Regions from separate parts of the Homo sapiens genome. Here region 1 is linked to region 2. The links come from fine-mapping of genetic effects on gene expression. A gene starts in region 2. The other region holds a variant in brackets. All regions are shown on one strand. Distances are from middle to middle.

Region 1 (10,441 bases), 840 kb after region 2:
CAGAGGTTGCAGTAAGCTGAGATCGCACCTCTGCACTCCAGCCTGGGTGACGGAGCAAGATTCTGTCTCAAAAAAATAAATAAATAAATAAATAAATAAAGAGAGAGAGACCAGGAAAATGACTACCAGGTGGGTCTGTGGACCTAATGGACATACTGTGAAGCTGGTCATGGCTGGGACTATACTTATTACTTGACCCCATATTCCACCACCCTAATAAGGTGCCGTGATGATGCTTCAGTTTCCTTGGTATCAATGTCAATTTGGACTCTATGTTCAACAGTTCTCAAAAGATCTGCATTCTTTCCCCAGTGTATGATTACTCAAGTTCTCCCTGTGGAAGGGCTGGTGGAACCTTATCCTGTCCATATGCCAGCTGATGCAGTGTCTTTCTTCATTCAGGACGTTCTAGATCTTAACTTAGGCTGGAAACAGGACAAGGAATCATGACTTTTTGTTGGGTGGTTGATGTTTTAAAATAAGCTCTTGGGCCGGGCGCGGTGGTTCATGCCTGTAATCCCAACACTTTGGGAGGCTGAGGCAGGCGGATCATCTTAGGTCAGGAGTTTGAGACCAGCCCGACCAACAAGGAAAAGCCCCCATCTCTACTAAAAATACAAAATTAGCTGGGCTTGGTGGTGCATGCCTGTAATCCCAGCTACTTGGGAGGCTGAGGCAGGAGAATCGCTTGAACCCTGGAGGTGGAGGTTGTGGTGAGCTGAGATCACACCACTGCACTCCAGCCTGGGCAACAAGAGCAAAACTCTGTCTCAAAATAAATTAAAAAAATAAAATAAAATAAGCTGTTTTTGGCTGCTCATCTATCTTACCACTAGGAATATTATGTTCTATTAACCATTTCCGGCTTGGCATGGTAGCTCATACTTGTAATCCCAACACTTTGGGAGGCCAAGGCGGGCAGATCACTTGAGTGCAGGAGTTCAAGACCAGTCTGGGCAACACGGTGAAACCCCATCTTTACTATTAAAAATATATCTTAAAAAAGAAAGGAAAAAAACACCATTTACTTAGTTCTCTGCAGCAGGACCTCTGGCTGCCTCCCTGACCTTGCTGCTCAGTGTGAGAATCGTGCCCACCTTCTGACAGATAAGTGCTGCTATCAGAGGCGTTGAAACCAGAGCAACTCCATCTTGAATAGGGGCCGGGTAAAATGAGACCCACTGGGCTGCATTCCCAGACAGTTAGGCATTCTAAGTACAGGATGAGATAGGAGGTTGGCACAAGATATAGATCATAAAGACCTTGCTGATAAAACAGTTTTCAGTAAAGAAGCCGGCTAAATCCCACCAAAACCAAGATGGTGATGAAAGTGACCTCTGGTCGTCCTCACAGCTACACTACCATCAGCGCCATGACAGTTTACAAATGCCGTGGCAATGTCAGGAAGTTACCCTATACGGTCTAAAAAGGGGAGGCATGAATAATCCACCACCTGTTTAGCATATCATCAAGAAATAACCATAAGAATGGGCAACCAGCCACCCTCGGGGCTGCTCTGTCTATGGAGTAGCCATTCTTTTATTCCTCTACTTTCTTAATAAACTTGCTTTCACTTTACTCTACAGACTCACCCTGAATTCTTTCTTGCGTGAGATCCAAGAACCCTCTCTTGCGGTCTGGATCGGGACCCCTCTCCTGTAACACTGCCACTTGGCCTTGATTATTTTGGGCTCCTCTTATCCCTATTACTATCAGCTCCCCCCACCCCCACCACCCCGCTCTGTAACAGCATCTCCCACCCTCACGGCCTCCCCGAGAATGGCCAACGATAGACTTCTCGATGCTGCTGCTCCTCCTCCACCAGCACCTTCTTTACTGCTTTGGTAAAAGAGTGATTTATGGGCTCTCCCAGGGAACATAGTCAGCTGGGGAATTTGCAGGCCCGACACAGGCTGATCCGGTTGAGCAAACCCTCTCCTTTGATCCATTTGATCCCTTCTGCCATCTGCCATGCTGTTTGAACTTTTCTCCTTAACTTAGTTTGAGCCAGTGCTGTTTCTAGGCTTCCAAGAGCCATTCTAGCACCTTCTCCTGGGGTCCTTGCCAGGGGGTAAAATCCTGCATCACAGGAGCACACTCCTATTCAATATTCTTTCCTATCAAGCTCTATGTTTTGATCCTCATCCTCAGAATCCAGTCCCATCTCTACTCTCCTGAATCCTGCCAGCACATGTTGGCAAGTTCCTGCAGCTCCTCCAGGGTACAGTCTCATTCCTTCCTCAGCAGCAGGTCTGGCGCATCCCTGGCCGGTTTTGTTGTGACTTGATAGCTATTTGTCTGGTGGCCAGGAGGGAGGTGCATTTCATCTTGCAAAGCAGAGGCCCTGCACTATCTTCAAGCATGAGGGGAGTTTTAGCCCTTAACAGTGGGCAGGGGGCCGCTTCTGCAGGCCCAGTGGGTTCAGTGGAATCTGGAGATTCAAGATTTTTTTAGTGCATTGACCCAGATGTGCCATCCCAAGTCTCTGAGTTCTGATCCTTCTCTACTGGGGTATGACCTGACAGAGCGGACGTGCTCTGATTGAGAATCCAACCTCTCTGAAGCTGCATTACCCTTATAATGAAGCTTCGGGCTGATCCTTAGCTTTTTCTGCCCTCCAGCTACAGAGTCTCTATATGCTGCCAAGAGACTTTCACACTTTGTCTCAAACTGATGATTAAGTACTCTCAAACTTTCATTGTCTTCCTTTAAGCATTGCTAGCCCCAGAGCCATCTGATTTCACAGTCCTTATATTACTAGTTCACTCAAACCTCTCAAATGCCTGGGAATTTGCTTCCACCAGTGCCTCCCTTCCATCAGTTTCCCATCATTCCTGCACATCCCCAGTGAAAGTTTAAACAAGTACACCACGCTAGAATGCCAGGGGCAATTATTGCTCCACCTTCCAGCTCCAAACACCTATTTTAGAATCTGCTTCCTAAAAATTACTCCTGGCCTCAGCTGCCTCATGTCTGGGTCCCTCCCTGCCAATAGATTTGTGATGGATATTTACACGCTGGAAGTGACTGGGCCATGGTCTCAGAAACAATACTTGTAAGGTAGTAAACGAAGCAGGTTGAGCAGAGGGAGAAGTGGAAAAGTGGAACTGGGTTGCAGTTGCAGCACAGCCTCAACTGATGCTAAAGGGAGCTTTGGACCTGAGGTGGCCCTTCAGAGTTGTCTCAGATCTAGGCAGGAGGACTACGCTTTTGTACTTCTGCACTGACCAATCATTGGCAGATCACATAAAGCTTGGGCTAGGCGGAGGATAGTCTTTGGATGGGAATAAATAAAGCCTGGGCATTTATGAACATGAAACAATGCCTGAAGGCTCAGCTGCGAGAGCTGTGAGCCATCAGCAGCCAATCTTCCCTACAGCTGGAGAATGAGTGGTCTGGTTTTGAAGGGGAGAGAGAGAGGTAGTGCACTCTAGGAGCCACTGACCTGAGGAAGGGGTTGACCCAGCAGAAGACAGAGAGGAAGGGCATAAAGACACCAGGTTCTTGGTGACATCCTTTGAGCTGCAGGATGAAATCCTGCCTGAAGCCACATTTCAAGTATACATTTCAGGTAAGCATGTAGGCAAGTTCTCTTTGTTTAAGCCACGTGAGTTGGGATTTCTGCTGCTGGATAAAATCTTGCCTGAAGCGGCATTTTATTTGCACTTTTCTCTAAAGCATGCAGGCAAATTCTCCTTGTTTAAACCATGTGAATTGGGCTTTCTATCACTTGCAACATAAAGACTCTCCATGGGCTGGGCATGGTGACTCAGGCCTGTTATCCCAACACTTTGGGAGGCTGACAAGGGAGGATTGCTTGAGCTGAGTTCAAGACCAACCTGGGCAACATAGTGAGACCTCATCTCTACTACAAATTTAAAAAAATCAGCTGGACATAATGGTGCACGCCTGTAGTCCCCGCTACTCGGGAGACTGAGGTGGAAGGATCACTTGAGCCCAGGAGATCAAAGCTTCAGTGAGCCATGATTGTACTACTGCACTCCAGCCTGGGTGACAGAGTGAGACCCTGTGTCAGAAAAAAGAAAAGAAAAGAAAAGGCCAGACACAGTGGCTCATGCTTGTAATCTCAGCACTTTGGGAGGCCAATGTGGGAGGATTACTTGAGCCCAGGAGTTCAAGACCAGCCTGGGCAACATAGTGAGACCCCATCTTTAAAAAAAAAAAAAAAAGAGTATCCATGAATTCAAGTACAAACTTTAACAGTTTATTGCCTTTTTAAAAATCAAAAGCTAAAATTAAATTTGTGATTTGGAAAATTTATTAGTAAAAAAGGTTTCTGCATAAATTAATGATGGTTCTTTTCTTGCTCCATAGTGCTACCTGAATACGGACTGAAAATTACTTATGGAAATATTTACAAGCTTATACTGCAGTGTAATTGGTGCTTGTTTGAGTGCTTCATTAATATTTAATTTTGCATCATTTCTTGAGCTAACTCATTGGCACATTTTCAGCATTCCACTGACAGACTTAACATAAATCACATTAATAATAAATGGCATGAGAGCTTTTTGTATTTCTTTTCTGAGCTATCATTTAAAGATAATTTTCTATGACAGGGAATTTTAAATGTACTATTAAAGATAAGACTTTCTTAATGTCTACTTCAGCAACCAACAGGAAATACAATGTGATTTTAATTACATTTATGTCTTGGGTTTTGACACAGTGCTTTCTGCTATTAACTCTTGTGAAGTGTACGTCTTCATAAAGCATTTTCAGCCATCCATGAAAAGACAGACTTGCTCAGACAAGTACTCGAAACTTAAACTATACAAGCAACTCCATGACATGAAGCAAGACAGATGTTTCTTTGTGGGAACTGGGGCTGGTCATGCTTGTCCGAGTGGCAAGGACCTAAATTCTTTAGGTGGCCAATATTTCTGTAGTCAGACAGTCTCCCCAAAGCCAGAAAGAGTGGAACCCACAAATTCCCTGGTCTCAGAAGAGAACATCAGCTTAGCTTGGCAGGGCTGTCTTAGGAGCCTGTCTCTGCAGGCTCACTGTGCTCATTTCTAAATGTACACCTGCAAAAGCATGAAATTAACACTTTAAACAAGTCACATTTGCCAATAAATAATTCAAAAGTTTTATGTGGAAAAGAGAAAATATGATAAACCACTGAAAGCGTATCTTTAAAATGCATGTCATAATTAAGAATTAACCACCAAAATTTAAAAAAAAAACCCTTAAAATAGTTTAAAATTCTTTTTTTTTTTGAGACGGAGTCTTGCTATGTCACCCAGGCTGGAGTGCAGTGGCGTGATCTCAGCTCACTGCAAGCTCCACCTCCCAGGTTCACGCCGTTCTCCTGCCTCAGCCTCCCTAGCAGCTGGGACTACAGGCGCCTGCCACCACACCCAGCTGTTTTTTTGTATTTTTAGTAGAGACGGGGTTTCACCATGTTAGCCAGGATGGTCTCAATCTCCTGACCTCATGATCCACCTGCCTCGGCCTCCCAAAGTGCTGGGATTACAGGCGTGAACCACTGCACCTGGCCAAAATAGTTTAAAATTCTTAAAAAACATTTATGGCAAAGCACATGGATACTGAAATTAAACACAAAAATGATTTCCCCCCCCCATATTGCTTGTAGAACAGTCAGGATTCTTTTGATTGCGAGTGACAGAAATCCAGTATAAAAGGCAATAGTAGATTAAAATAACCAAAAATGCCTGTTTTGTTACAAGTAAGAATAGGGGCCAGGCGTTATGGCTCACGCCTGTAATCCCAGCACTTTGGGAGGCCGAGGCGGGCAGATCACTTGAGTCCAGGAGTTCAAGACAGCCTGAGCAACCCCGTCTCTACGAAAATAAAAAAATTAGCTGGTTGCGGTGGTGAGTACCTGTAGTCCCAGCAACTTAGGAGGCTGAGGTGGGTGGATCAATTGAGCCTGGGAGGTTGCACCACTGCACTCCAGCCTGGGAGACAGAGCAAGACCCTGTCTCAAAAAAAAAAAAAGATGAAATTCTTCCTCCACTCCCCTACATCTCATCCCCACTTCCAAGGGGATCCTAGAGGGCTGTCATAGTTATTGGTTTTGTGTGCTCATCAGCCTTCTTCCGGTATTAGCACCCCTGTTTTGCAGCAAGTG[C/T]GCCCACCTCCCTGGAGTCCTGGTGAGGGTGCTGTCAATCACAGTGCCCACTGGCTTCTGCTCCAGCATGGACATGTGACTCAGGCTGAGCTAGCACCTAACATCTGCTTTCCTGTTCTGACAGTTGCCACCTCCCCACTCCCCATGACTTGAATTTGTGGAGCCACAGCTAATCCCTGAAGCCAGAAAGAGTAGAACCCACAAATTCTCTGATGTCAGAAGAGAACATCAGCTTAGCTTGGCAGGGCTGTCTTAAGAGCCTGTCTCTGAGGGCTCACCGGGCTGGTTTCTAAATGTGCACCCACCATCTGTTGGATGATTCATACCCGGCTGGATACAAAGTCGGGGCTCCATTCGGGTCTTTGGACTTGAATTCATTCCAAAATCAAAGGTGTCAAGATTGGTGGCTTAAAATTCTAGAATCATTTTGGGAAATGAGGACGGCATTTGCCCTTGTACAATCTCTTGATGTGTCTCCCATTTTTATAAAAGTGAAAAGGAAGTTCTGAGAGGCTCCCTGAGGCAACTCCTTCCCCATCTGGGATTGCGCCCCTCCAGACCAGAGACTGAGCGCCCCTGAGGGGCTCCCACCCCGACTCCTCTCCCCCAAGACATGCTGGACAGGGCTGATGGGCTATCTTCCCTCTTCCTTCTTCCCTTCCTTTTCTTTCCCCGCTGTTTTTAAACTTCATTTGCAGACATTTGAGTTAGTTAATCATATGCCTTAGTTCATGGCACTTTCTCATCACTAGTCCATGTAAGTCCCCTCTCTTGTTTGTAATTATTCTCTTTTATCCACATATCCTATCCCAGTCTCCAGCCCCTCCCCATCATAGGCACATGTTCTTTTTTTGTTTTTGAGGCAGGGTCTTGCTCTGTTGCCCAGGCTGGAGTTCAGTGGCATGATCACGGCTCCTGCATTCTCTGCCTGGTCCCAGGCTCAAGTGATCCTCTGGCCTCAGCCTCCCAAGTAGCTGGGGACTACAGGCACATGCCACCAATGCCAGCTAATTTTTGTATTTTTTGTAGAGACAGGGTTTTGCCATGTTGGCGAGGATGGTCTCAAATTCCTGGGCTCAAAGTGATCCGCCTGCCTCGGCCTCCCAAAGTGCTGGGATTACAGGCATGAGCCACCGCGCCTGGCCATAGGCTCATAATCTGTGAGTCTTTCATTTGCATGTATTCTTGTACAGGGAGTATTGATGTTTTGTATTTTTTCTAGGCATACATTTTAAATGTTCACAAATGCTATCGGGTTATATATCTCATTCTGTTGCTTGTTTGTTTCACCCATTCTTATATTTCTGAGATCGGTCCATGTGGCCCTGGGTGCATCTAATCCATTGCTTCTAACTTTGTAAAGTACTCCATGGTGTGTGTGCTGAGTAATCTTCATCTGCCCCCAGGGCCCATTTCCCACCTTCCAGTTGGGTTTGGTCTTTGAAAGGCACCATAAGAGATCAGAGGGTAGGCACAAGTAAGGTGGGATATTGATTTGACTAGACAGGCTGGGCATAGCAGTGGTGGCATTATTCTCCCAACGGCCACAGCTCCTGCCCAGAGGCTCTCTCCTACAGCCTGGGGACCGCCTCCTGCCCTTACCCTCAGGCATGGTGGAGGCAAGAGTGCCCCATGGATGCTTGTCTGAGGGTGCTTCCCTGCCCCTTGTTGGTATCCCTAAACGCCACCCACATCATATACGTTATTCCATCATGGAACTCTTCTCAGTCGTCCTGCGGAATCAGACTTATTCAGCATGGATTTGCCACATGTGTTCCTCTTTGCCCACCCAGTGGTAGACTCCTGCCTTGCCACTAACTCCCTGCCACCACACCTATCTCCAGGAGAAACAGCTTCACTCTTCTTTTCACCTCTGGTCCTTTCCTTTCCAGGTGGGGTGCATTCCCCTGACTCCTGCAGCTGTGGCATCTAGGAGAGGGGCCCATCCTTGTCTTTCTAATCACCTGACCCAGCGGTTCTCAACCAGGCGTCATGTCAGCCCCATGGGACATTTGGCAATGTCTGGGGACATTTTGCTGGTCATGACTGGGAGGTGGGGGTGATGAGATGCTGTGGACATCCAGTGGGTGGAGGCCAGGGATGCTGCTCAGTCCATTCCTCCAAAGCATAGGACAGCCCCTCCATGGCAAAGACGTACCTGGTACTGAATGTCAGTGGCACTGAAGTGGAGCAGCTCTGAGTTAACACAAAACCACTTGGACTTTAGATTTAATCCTTTCCTGGGCTTTTGATTAGTTCTTGGGGAGGTGGCGGGAGACCTCCTGAGATCTTGCTTCATGCTGCCTGTGAAAGCAGCTTTGTTAGGCTAAGCTCCTGGCCTCGCTCCACCCTCTCCCTCATTCCTCCCCAGGGCAGGAGGTGTGACATCTGATTCTCAAGTTTCTGAGTTTCCACGGAGGAGCCAGGCAGGCCCTCCCAGCTCCTTCCCTCTGCGTGGGAGCTGGGTGCCCATGGGAAGCCCACATTTAGCATAGTAAGCTACAGAGGACCATTTGCCCAGCACTGCCTGTGACCAGGGGACAGGTCAGCCTGGTTCCGGGGTACAATGTTGGGAAATCTGTTGTTGTTGCTCAGCTAAGCCATGCTCTTTTCCAGCTGTGACAGTAATAAAGCTGACTTTATTTAAATTTTTTTTTTTTTTTTATAGATAGACTCTTTCTCTGTCACCCAGGCTGGAGTGCAGTGGCGTGATTGTAGCTCACTGTAACCTCAAACTCCTGGGCTTAAGCAGATCTCCCACTTCAGCCTCCCAAGTAGCTGGGACTACAGGTGTGCATCACCATGCCTAGCTACTTTTAAAAATTTTTCATAGAGATGGGATCTTGCTGTGTTGCCCAGGATGGTCTCAAACTCCTGGCCTCGAGTGATCCTTCTGCCCTCAGCCTCCCAAAGCACTAGGAATATAGGCGTTAGCTACCACATCCAGCCAAAGCTGACATTGTGATTGTCATCTACCTAGCTTCTTTGCCAATCTCTCATCTGGTTCAGAGCTGCAGGAGAGAACATCATAAAGTGTAATTCACTGGGACTCTTCAATGCCAACAGTCACTTTAATATCACTGGAACCTCCCTCTCTGCCTCAGGCCAGTCCAGGCAAACACGCAGTAGGGCACCGGGATTAGGAGCACTGGCCCATTGTTAGTGCATGGGGATTCCCCATTTACACCTGATAGGAGAAAATGGCCTAGCCAGGTTAAGTGGAAGCAGCGGAGTGCTGGCTCAGGTGTCCGACCAGCATAGGTGGTGCTGAACACAGGGGCTCAGATGATTCACTCAGGACCAGTTCCTCTCTTCCCATTGCTTGGTTTCTTTCTTCTGTGTTGACCATACCCTCAGGAAGGCTCTCCTCTTAGAGTGGCTGCCAGCAGCAACCAGACTTTATATTACAAGTTCAAATCCTACTGAGAACAGCAGGAAGTCTTTTTTTCTGAGCATCCCAGCAGTGCTGTGATTCTATGGCCTGGGGTGTGTCTGTCTCCTGAACCAATGATTAATCAGAACCAAAACCATCTTCCCCACACTTGTCCTGGACAGTGAGAATGGAAATCACACCTTACAGTCTAGAGTAACATGACCTGGTTATGCCACTGTCTTCATTTGCATTTCTCTACTCTTCTGGGACTGTCCTGCTTAAGCAAATGGTTCAACCGTTCATTGCAGCAACTTCCAGGAAGACCTATCAGCTCTTCAGTGGAAAGCATCAACAGTTTGAACCCTAAGATTCTTTGAATATTGTGGTTCAAAATCCTAGCCTGCTTTTCCCACCAATCCAGGACTGTTGTATTGTGATCTCTGCCCTGTCTGAAGCAAGCCAACTCTCCCTCCCCCAAAGACTCACTTTAAACCAAACTTCCAGTTCTCCGTACATCCTGACCTTATCTTTCACCTCTGCTGGAAGCAATAAGCTCAGCTTTGTCTTATCAGTTGGTCGTGATGGTAATGTCTGGGGAGCCCACTTCTGACACTAAGATGGTAGAATCCCCCAATGGGAAGGGGACTGAGCCCATGAATAACTCTTGTAAGTGCCAGTGAGAGGGTCAGCTTCAAATATGTCCCAAGTCCAGAGAGCACAGAGGCTGGGGCTGCATGGCAGCATCAGTGAAATAAGAGCTTTCCTGCCTCTCTTTCTATCATCTCTGTCCTTGAACTTCAGCCCTGGATGAGTCAGAATCCTCTGTTAACAGAAACGGAGAGGAGTGAAAGGCTGGGAGGGCTTCACAGGTGGGCTTCTCTGGAAGCAGATGCAGAGGTGGAGTTTGGCCTTCAGGAGGCTTATTTCTTAGGAAACAATACCTGAGTAAGGGA
Region 2 (10,280 bases):
CTCAGGAGGCTAAGGCAGGAGAATGGCGTGAACCCGGGAGGTGGAGCTTGCGGTGAGACGAGATGGCACCACTGCACTCCAGCCTGGGCAACAGAGCAAGACTCCGTCTCAAAAAAAAAAAAAAAAAGAAATGCCAAGTGTGAAGTGTCCCATAGCTTCCCAGCACTCAGGAAGTATATGGTCAACACACCCCTAAGAGAGAAGGCCCCTGCCCATGCCTCTGAACTCTTCACCTCCCAACTTCCCTCCCACCCATCAGGCTTCGGGCATTTCAACTCTCCTCCCGTACTTCAAAAAGCCAAGCTCATTCCCACCCTGGGACCTTTGCACATGCTGTTTGCTTGGCTGGAAATGTTTTTCACTGTGATTCTGTACATGGCTGGCTGCTTCTTGTCATTCAGATCGCTGCTTCTTGTCATTCAGATCACAGCTTAAAAATTGCGTTCTTTGATCACCCAATCTAAAGTGATCATTTGCTACTCCTATTCATTTCTGGGCATATTTCATTTCTGAAGCCTATCACTAACCATTAGCTGGTATATGAAAACAGGTATCTATTTGGTCTCATTCATGGCTGTATCCCCAGTGTCTAGAAGAGAGCCTAGCACAGATGACAAGCAATGCATACTTGGAGTATCCCACACAGGCACACTCACCATGGCAACTACCGGCCCTGAGTGCATGTATTTCACCAGGCCGGCAAAGAATGGACGGTCCTTCAGGTCAACGTAGTGTTCCTTGAGAAGATCTTCGGAAGCCTATTCAACAGGACAGAGAATGAGAATAACCCCCAAACCATCTAAGGACATATAATCCATTTAATTTCCCCTCATCCACCCTGCTATGTAAAACATGAGCGGTTGGGCTCACTGATTCTGTTATAACCCAATTCATTCTCCACACTGGAAGGGAGCAGTGACAGGACTAAATGTACTTCTCCAATTTTATATCAGTTGTCTCCCTATTGGCACTGACTGATAATAAAACCACAGAACATTAAAATTAAATCCAGCTATCTCATTTAAAAAAAAATCAAACTCCTGGGCTCAAGTGATCCTCCTGCCTCAGACTCCCGAGTAGGTAGGACTGTAGACACACACTACCAGACTTGGCTAATTTTATTTATTTATTTATTTATTTTGAGACAGAGTCTCCCTCTGTCACCCAGGCTGGAGTGCAGTGGCGTGATCCTGACTTACTGCAACCTCCACCTCCTGGGTTCAAGTGATTCTCCTGCCTCAGCCTCCCAAGTAGCTGGGATTACAGGTGGCGGCCATCATGCCTGGCCAATTTTTGTATTTTTAGTAGAAACAGGGTTTCGCCATGTTGGCCAGGCTGGTCTCAGGTGACCGCAGGTGATCTGCCTGCCTTGGCCTCCCAAAGGGCCGGGACTACGGGCGTAAGCCACCGCGCCCAGCCATACCTGGCTAATTTTAAAAAATTATTTGTAGAGATAGGGTCTCACTATGTTGCCCAGGCTGGTCTCAAACTCCTGGACTCAAGTGATCCTCCAGCCTCCGCCTCCCAAAGTGCTGGGCTTACAGGCGTGACCCACCATGCCTGGCCCTCAACTATCTCATTTTAGACAGGAAAATCAACAATACAATAAATTTCCATTCCCAGAGCAAACCCCAAATAAAATGTTAGAAGGACACCAGGAAGCAAGTCTTGGCATTTAATGAGCAGCAAACTAAACCAGGCCATTACCCAGGGATGCTTCACGTTTATTCAGAGGATAAAAGCCCAGCAGTGATGACCATGTGATTACCAAAGGTATCTGCAAATCACCCAAAAGTGCATGACATCTAGTAATAAATAATTTTGCTGAAAAATGAATTAGAACCTCTCATACTGCAAGGCTAATATGTGGGAACGAATCAAGTTAGCTAGAGAACAAACCATCTGCTTAGCAGTTTCAACTCAGTTTGGCTGTGTTCTCTCTTGTACTGCATATACGCTTGTTAAAATCTAACAGGGTCCCATGGTTTTTCCAGCTCTGTGGTACTGCACTGTATGACGCATATCACACACATCAGAGACACACACAGATGTGGAGACTGGCTGCCCAGAAGCCCCATCATTCAGCCACCAGTTATCATCACTTGCCAAAGTAAAATTACATGGCCATATAATCACTCCGTGGTAGGGATCCAACCCTCGCCCTGTCCTTTCCTATCCAAATGGAAGACTTTTGTTGTGGAAGTCTAACAGACCCTGAGGTGACCTTCCCTTATCAGAATACTTTTTTAATTCTATTAATTGGTTCCAATTATCTTTTTGTTGGTTTTGTTGTTTGTTTTGAGACAGGGTCTTTCTGTCACCCAGGCTGGAGTGCAATGGCATGATCATAGCTCACTGCGGCCTCAAACTCCCAGGCTCAAGCAATCCTCTTGCCTCAGATTCTCAGTAGCTAGGACTACAGGTGTGCACCACTACACCCGGCTAATTATCTTTTTTTGAGACAGGGTCTTGCTCTGTTACCCAGGCTGGAGTGCAGTGGCTCGATCTCCGCTCACTGCAACCTCCACCTCCCGAGTTCAAGCCATCCTCTCGCCTCAGCCTCCCTGGTAGCTGGGACTACAGGCATGCGCCATCACACCCAGCTAAATTTTGTATTTTTAGTAGAGACGGGGTTTCACCACGTTGGCCAGGCTGGTCTCCATCTCCTGACCTCAGATGATCCACCCACCTTGACCTCCCAAAATGCTGGGATTACAGGTGTGAGCCACCACGCCAGGCCCTAACTGATTATCTTTAGTCTGCAAAACAGATCACGGGCTTTTTTTAAGGGCTTGGGGGTTGGGAACCTCAAGTTCTCCCTTGCTTCCTGCCTCCACACCAGATTTAAATGCCCCTTTAGAGTCATGGCAGCTATCCTTCCGTCCATTCTTCACCAAACCCATATATCCTTAATAGGAAATTCAATGTAAAGGAGAAAGTATCTGCACTCAGGGGTCAGAGAGACTCAAGTTAAAATTCCAGTGGCATCACTGTATGCTATCAGGCACATCACTGAACCTCTCCAAGCCTTAGGTTGCTCATCACTAACAACCACGAGAACAGGAGTAAGTACTTCTCAAGGCTGGCATGAAGACTAAATCAGAAAACATATGTGCCCAGCATATGGTAAATGCCTGATCAACAACACATCCATCTCATGTTACCTTCTGCTGTGATCTGAATGTGTCCCCCAAAGTTCGTATGTTGGAAATTTAATCCTCGATGCAACAATGTTGGGAGGTGAGGCCTAATGGGAGGTGTTTAGGTCATGAGGGCTTCACCCTCATGAACAGATTAATGTCTTATCTCAGGAGTGGGTTTGTTATAAAATCAACATCAGCCCCCTCTTGCTCTCTCTCACTCTTGCACTCTCTTGCTATTCCATTCTGTCATGGGATGATACAGCAAGAAAACCTTCATTAGATGCCAGCTCCTTGACCTTGGACACCATATTCTCCTCTCAGCATGAACATCAGTCTACCCTCTTTTACATTAAAGCAGTTTTTCTTTTCTTTTTTTTCTTTTTTTTTGGAGACGGAGCCTCCCAAAGTGCTGGGATGACAGGCGAGTCACTGTGCCAGCCCTAAAGCAGTTTTTCTAAAATATCACATAGGAAGTAAATTGCAAGTCAAACTAAATTTTAAAATGCACTAGAAGGGTCCAAAATTGATTCCCTTTTAGAAAACATACTATCCCCTATTTGATTTGAGAATTGGAATTCTTTTTTTTTTTTTGAGACAGAGTCTCCCTCCCTCTGTTGCCCAGGCTGCAGTGTGGTGCAATATCGGCTCACTGAAACCTCCGCCTCCTGGGTTCAAAAGCAATTCTTTTTTTTTTTTTTTTTTGGAGATGGAGTTTTGCTCTTGTTGCACAGGCTGGAGTGCAATGATGCGATCTCGGTCACTGCAACCTCCACCTCCCCAGTTCAAGCGATTCTCCTGTCTCAGCCTCCCGAGTAGCTGGGATTACAGGCGCATGCCACCACGCCTGGCTAATTTTTGTATTTTTAGTAGAGACGGGGTTTCATCATATTGGTCAGGCTGTCTCGAACTCCTGACCTCAGGTGATCCGCCCGCCTCAGCCTCCCAAAATGCTAGGATTACAGGTATGAGCCACCGCACCTGGCTGGTTCAAGCAATTCTTATGTCTCAGCCTGCCGAATAGCTGGGATTACAGGCACCCACCCTGATGCCCAGCTAATTTTTGTATTTTTAGTAGAGACGGGGTTTCACAATGTTGGCCAGGCTGGTCTTGAACTCCTGACCTCAAGTGACCAGCCTGCCTTGGCTTCCCAAAGTGCTGGGATTACAGGTATGAGCCACTATGCCTCACCCAGCCGAGAATTTGGATTATCTCTAGAATTTGTTTGAAGAAGGGTTATTGGTCAATCAATCCTTTGCATTTATCAAAAGATTGCTTTGTAAGTAGCTTGCAGGTACATCTGCTCTCTGCTGTTTCTGAAGAACCTCCCCAAAACCAAAACCATAGTTTTCCTCCACCAGCTCCTATGATACCTAATATATGCTAAACAATAAGCATTTATTAGTGTCTAGTAATTGATGATGGAAAGACTTTCTTGCTAAAAAACAACCTGTCTCAAAGGGGGAAAAAAATCTCTCTAAAATTATCTGCTCAGGAAGCTCAAGACCAAGAACTCAAACATGCTCAGCTCTCAGTCAGAAATTACAGAGATGCAGTCATATGTGGAACTCTGCACTGCTTTTCCCGTAGCAATGCACCTCCTATTACAGAGACTATTTTGGAAAATCCTAAATAACTTGGTTTGTTCCAAGATGTAGCCAAACGCTAGGGCACTGAGGAGTTTCCAGGTCTCAAGACACTTGTGTTCACTCTACCGTGGAGAACTTTAAATAAGAAAGACGGGGAGAAACAGGTTAATCACAGTGTTCTCCTATACTATGAAGGAATCAAAATGGGAACAATGAAGTCCACTTACTTGCATGAATTTCAGACCAACAAGGCGGAATCCTTTCTGCTCAAAACGCTTGATAATCTCTCCCACAAGACCCCGCTGGACCCCATCTGGTTTGATCGCAATGAAGGTACGCTCACAGTTGGCCATGGTTCTGGGGATAGGCAGGTAGAGGAATGAAACAGCAGTGAATCACTTGCCTACAGCGTCATCCGTCTCAAGCGGATTATCCCATAAAGCTGGTTTAAATCTGTCAGGTCAGCTCCAGGTCTCCCTCTGGTAAAAACCCAATTCCTCCCCAGTCCCCTGATCTATGAACTAATATGTCAATGTGGGAAAGGATCCAAAAGCAAGGACTATAATTTCTATCCCATTTGATTTATTTTATTTTCATTTGTTTTGGTTTTTGTGGGGTTTTTTTAGAGATGGGGTTTCGCTATGTTGCCCACGCTGGTCTCGAACTCTTGTCCTCAAGTGATCTGCCCACCTCAGCCTACCAAAGTGCTGGGATTATGGCCATGAGCCACCACACCCAGCCCCATTTGATTTTTTTTTTTTTTTTTGGTATGGAGTCTTGCTCTTTCGCCCAGGATGGAGTGCAGTGGTGCGACCTTGGCTCACTGCAACCTCCACTTCCCAGGCAAGCAATTCTCCTACCTCAACCTCCTAAATAGCTGGGACTACAGGTGCGTGCCACCACACCCAGCTAATTTCTGTATTTTTTTTTACTAGAGATGGGGTTTCACCATGTTGGCCAGGCTGGTCTCCAACTCCTGACCTCAAGTAATCTGCCCACCTCAGCCTCCCAAAGTGCTGGGATTAAAGGCGTGAGCCCCATGAGCCTGGCCACCATTTGATTTAATAAGCTTCTTTTAAACATCTACTGTGTACCAAACACTGCGGTGGAACTAGGATACAGGATGTTAAAAACAAGGCACTATCTTTCTCAATAATCAAGCTTGGGAGAAACTACACTGATGAAAAGTTTTACTAATGTGAAAGTGATGTCCGGTACAAAGCAGTAAGAAATAATAGTTTGACTTAATGCCACAGCCATAGCATTAGGGGTTTTAGAGAATATATCTTTACAACCCCCTTCATTTTACAAATGAGGAAACAGGACCACAGCACCAGAATGAAGGCCAAAACCCAGCATTCCCAACCCATTAATCCATTCTTGTAATGTTATGCTACACTTTACAATGCAAAGAATATTTTGACTAGCCAATAAACGGTGGGGTGTGGGAGAACTACAGACATTAGGAATATCTGATACGGGACATCATACTGAAAGGAAGCCTAGAGAGTAACTATTCCGTCCAGATCCCTCATTTTACAGAAGACTGCGCTCATGACCTACCCTGTATCACAGCTTGAGATAGGAGGCCCCTCGCCTTGAAAGACGATCCCTAAAGTAGACAGTAGCACCATCTCTTGGCCCCATCTTCCTGTCCTTTAGTTAACCTCTTCTTACAGCATCTTAGCACTGTAGTCCAATTTTCTGTTTGTGTGTCTGCCTCCCCTGCACACCAGGCTGACTTAGTCCTGTGTAGAGACTCTATGGTACCTAGCCACAGGGCCTAGCAGTCAATAGGAGCAAAGAAAATCATTTATCACCATTCTGCAACTTCCAAAAAAAAAAAAAGAGAGAGAGACAAAGCCCAAAGACTGCGGAGAATCGCACGATGGGGTGCGGGGCAAGCATAAATTGTCCAGGAGAAAACAGGACTAAAGCGCCAGAAATACACCCTAAAAATGTCCCTCCACATCGGTCCCGGTGACACAACAGTAAGCACTCAGTGCTTGCTGAATGAATGACACACACACCCGTCATTTATTCAGCAAGCACTTACAGAGCGCCAACTCCGTGCCCGGCACTGCTCTCGACAGACACAAATAAGGCACAGCCCTGTCGTCGCGGCCTGACGAGAAAGGCGGCCACCGACAAAGGCGAGTCCACGTGGCGTGGGACGTGCGCCGACCGGTCTGCACTTGTCCACAGGCGCTCCCTGCCCCTCCTCCCATCCGATCCTCCTCGCCGCCTCTTAGAGCTGAACTCATCTCTTCACTAACTCCTCACCTAACCCACTCCCGCGACTACACTCCTTTCTTTTTCCTCTCAGGATCCCGAACACCTCTTACCCTTCCAGCTGCTTAGGTTTGAACTCCGGCTGCAGCCGCCAGCACCCGAAACGCGCCCGGGACCCACGTGGTTCGCAGCACTTGCACGCACGGAACGCTTCTGCGCAGATCCGCTGCCGGAGAGCCCATTTTGCAGAACACCGCTCGCCCACGCTTCCTCTTGGGAGTAGGCAGTCATTCTAGGGAACAACTTTCTGCAGTTTAACTTCCGGCGCTAGCTTTTTCAGACCTTTCCGGTTAGCTGCTTGCTTTCTTCTCTCCACCCCCGGGTTCTCTGACTCACTTCCTTCGTTCGCGAGCAAATTGGCTTCCCGAGAGGTGGCGCTCACACGTTGCGTGAAGTCCAAAGAGTGCCTGACCTAGAAGTAGACTTTTCGCTCCCGCTTTGTGTTTATTCACCTTTTCTAGCCTGTCAAGCAAAAAATTTTGAGTACCTACTACGTGGACGCATTATTCTAGGCCCTAGGGATAAAACAGTATGCTCTCTTGGAGCTTCTGGGAGGGATGGGAGTATAGGAAAACAAGAAGCAAATAAGCAAATTAATATGTAATAGATCGCATTTTGTAAGTGCTGTGAAGAAAAGGCCAGAGAAATCTCTGAGTAAGTGATAATAGAATAGACCTGCATGAAGTGAGGGAGCCAGCCCAGTGATTCTTCGAGAGCCAAGTATTACGGTGGACATCGAGTGGTGGAAAATGCCGTTAGAATAGAGCCAAATCTTATGTTGTGAGATGCTAATACAGATTTTGCACAAGGCATGACATCATCACTAACAAAAAAACATTCCCACTGCTCTAAGGGGAAATGAACGGGGGAAAGGTACAAAAATGGAATCAGGAGCCGTTTCAACAAATGATGCTGGAGCAATTGGACGAATATAGACCCAAAGAACCTCAACCTAAACCTCTCACCTTATACAAAATTTACTCAAAATGAATCATAGATTTAAATGTAAAACAATAAATCACTTATGGGGAAAAAAAAAGTTAAAAAAAATCCTCAGGACCTAGGGCCAGGCAAATAGTTTTTAGACGACACCAAAAGACCAATCTATACAGGGAAAAAGTTGATAAATTGGAACTTACTGAAATTTAAAACTTTTGGCCGAGCGCGGTGGCTCACGCCTGTAATCCCAGCACGCTGGAAAGCAGCGGCGGGAGGATCACTTGAGCTCAGGAATTCGAGACCAGCCCGGGCAACATAGTGAAACCCCGTCTCTACTAAACATACAAAAATGAGCCGGGCGTGGTTGCAGGCGCCTGTAGTCCCAGCTACTCGGGAGGCTGAGGCAGGAGAATCGCTTGAACCCGGGAGGCAGAGGTTGCAGTGAGCCGAGATTGCGCCAGGGCACTCCAGCCTGGGTGACAGAGCGAGACTCGGTCTCAAAAAAATAAAAAATAAATAAAATAAATAAGTAAAATTTCATTATTCTCCTGTTTTCTTTTTTTTCTTTTTGAGACCGAGTATCGCTTTGGCGCCCAGGCCGGAGCGCAGTTGCACGATGTCGGTTCATTGCAAACTCCGCCATCCGGGTTCAAGCGATTCTCGTGACTCAGCTTCCCGCGTAGCTGGGACTACAGGCGTCTGCCACCACGCCCGGTATTTTCTTTTTCTTTTTTTTTTTTTTTTTTTGAGACGGAGCCTTGCCAGGTCGCCCAGGGTGGAGTGCAGTGGTGCGATCTCGGCTCACTGCAACCTCCGCCTCCCGGGTTCAAGCGAATCTCCTGCCCCAGCCTCCCGAGCAGCTGGGATTACAGGTGCCCACCACCACACCCGGCTACTTTTTGTATTTTTAGGAGAGACGGGGTTTCACCATGTTGGCCAGGTTGGTCTCAAACTCTTGACCTCGTGATCCGCCCGCCTCAGCCTCCCAAAGTGCTGAGATTACAGGCATGAGCCACCGCGCCTGGCCCTAATTTTTGTATTTTTAGTAGAGACGGGTTTTCACTATGCTGGCCAGGCTGGTATCGAACTCCTGACCTCAAGTGTTCCATCTGCCTCGGCCTACCAAAGTGCAGGGATTACAGGCATGAGCCACCGTGCTCGGCCTTTATTTATTTATTTGTTTATTTATTTATTGAGATGCAGTCTTGCTCTGTCACCCAGGCTGGAGTGCCTTGGCGGATCTCAGCTCACTGCAACCTCTGCCTCCCACGTTCAAGTGATTCTCCTGCCTCAGCCTCCCGAGTAGCTGGGACTACAGGCGTGCACCACCACGCCCGGCTAATTTTTGTATTTTTAGTAGAGACGGGGTTTCACCATGTTGGCCAGGCTGGTCTCAAACTCCTGACCTCAGGTGATCCGCCCACCTTGGCCTCACAGAGTGCTGGGATTATAGGCGTGAGCCACTGTGCCCTGCAGAAAAGAAATTTAAAACCTTTGTCCTGTGAAAGACCTTTTGAAGAGGACGAAAAAACAAGCTAGAGTGGAAGGAAATATTTCCAAACCACATATCAGATAAAGGCCTTCTCTTCATTTGAAGGTTTGAATATTTGAAGAACTCTGAACGCTCAACAGGTTAAAAAAATCCAATTAGAAAATGGGCAAAAGACATGAATAGACATTTCATTGAACAGGATATACAGAGGCAAGAAAGCACATGAAAAGATGTTCAACATCATTAGCCACCAGGGAAATTCAAACTAAAACCAAAATCGGATATTACTACATGCCTATCAGAATGCTAAAATGAAAGTAGTGATACACCAAACGCTATTAAGGAGGTATAGAAACTGGATCCACATTACTGGTAGGAATATAAAATTGTACAGCCACTCTGAAAAAGTTTGATAGTTTCTTTTTTTTTTTTTTTTTTTTTTTTTGAGACGGAGTTTCGCTCTGTCGCCCAGGCTGGAGTGCAGTGGCGCGATCTCGACTCACTGCAAGCTCCGCCTCCCGGGTTCACGCCATTCTCCTGCCTCAGCCTCCCGTGTAGCTGGGACTACAGGGGCGCGCTACCATGCCCGGCTAATTTTTGTATTTTTAGTAGAGACGGGGTTTCACCGTGTTAGCCAGGATGGTCTCGATCTCCTGACCTCGTGATCCGCCCGTCTCGGCCTCCCAAAGTGCTGGGATTACAGGCGTGAGCCACCGCGCCCGGCCGATAGTTTCTTAAAAAACTAAACATGTGCTTACCATATGACCCAGCCATTGCACTGTTGGGCGTTTATCCAACAGGAATGAAAACTTATGCTCTGTTCACAC

The links. PIP is the estimated chance that this variant, and not a neighbour inherited with it, causes the effect. A credible set is the group of variants that fine-mapping cannot tell apart.
Region 1: its variant is the best candidate, but not a certain one, in a credible set for the expression of NME1-NME2 in esophagus mucosa (GTEx, PIP 0.72).

What each region holds. Positions count from the first base shown.
Region 1 is chr17:50,310,529-50,320,969 of GRCh38, reverse strand. No RefSeq gene overlaps it. Among named protein-coding and RNA genes, the nearest start is that of TMEM92-AS1, 28 kb to the right of the region's middle. RefSeq lists enhancers at 1,789-2,367, 2,368-2,947, 4,668-4,797, 9,044-9,562. The variant C/T (reference allele first, on the strand shown) is at 6,116.
Region 2 is chr17:51,150,458-51,160,737 of GRCh38, reverse strand. NME1-NME2 (NME1-NME2 readthrough) reads right to left here and starts at 7,179. Exons shown (of 9, transcript NR_037149.2): 1 at 7,076-7,179; 2 at 6,294-6,513; 3 at 4,958-5,087; 4 at 657-758. It overlaps NME1 (NME/NM23 nucleoside diphosphate kinase 1), which reads right to left and starts at 7,179. Exons shown (of 5, transcript NM_000269.3): 1 at 7,076-7,179; 2 at 4,958-5,087; 3 at 657-758. The coding sequence starts at 5,083. RefSeq lists enhancers at 4,981-5,512, 6,909-7,328, 7,112-7,643, 6,667-7,866.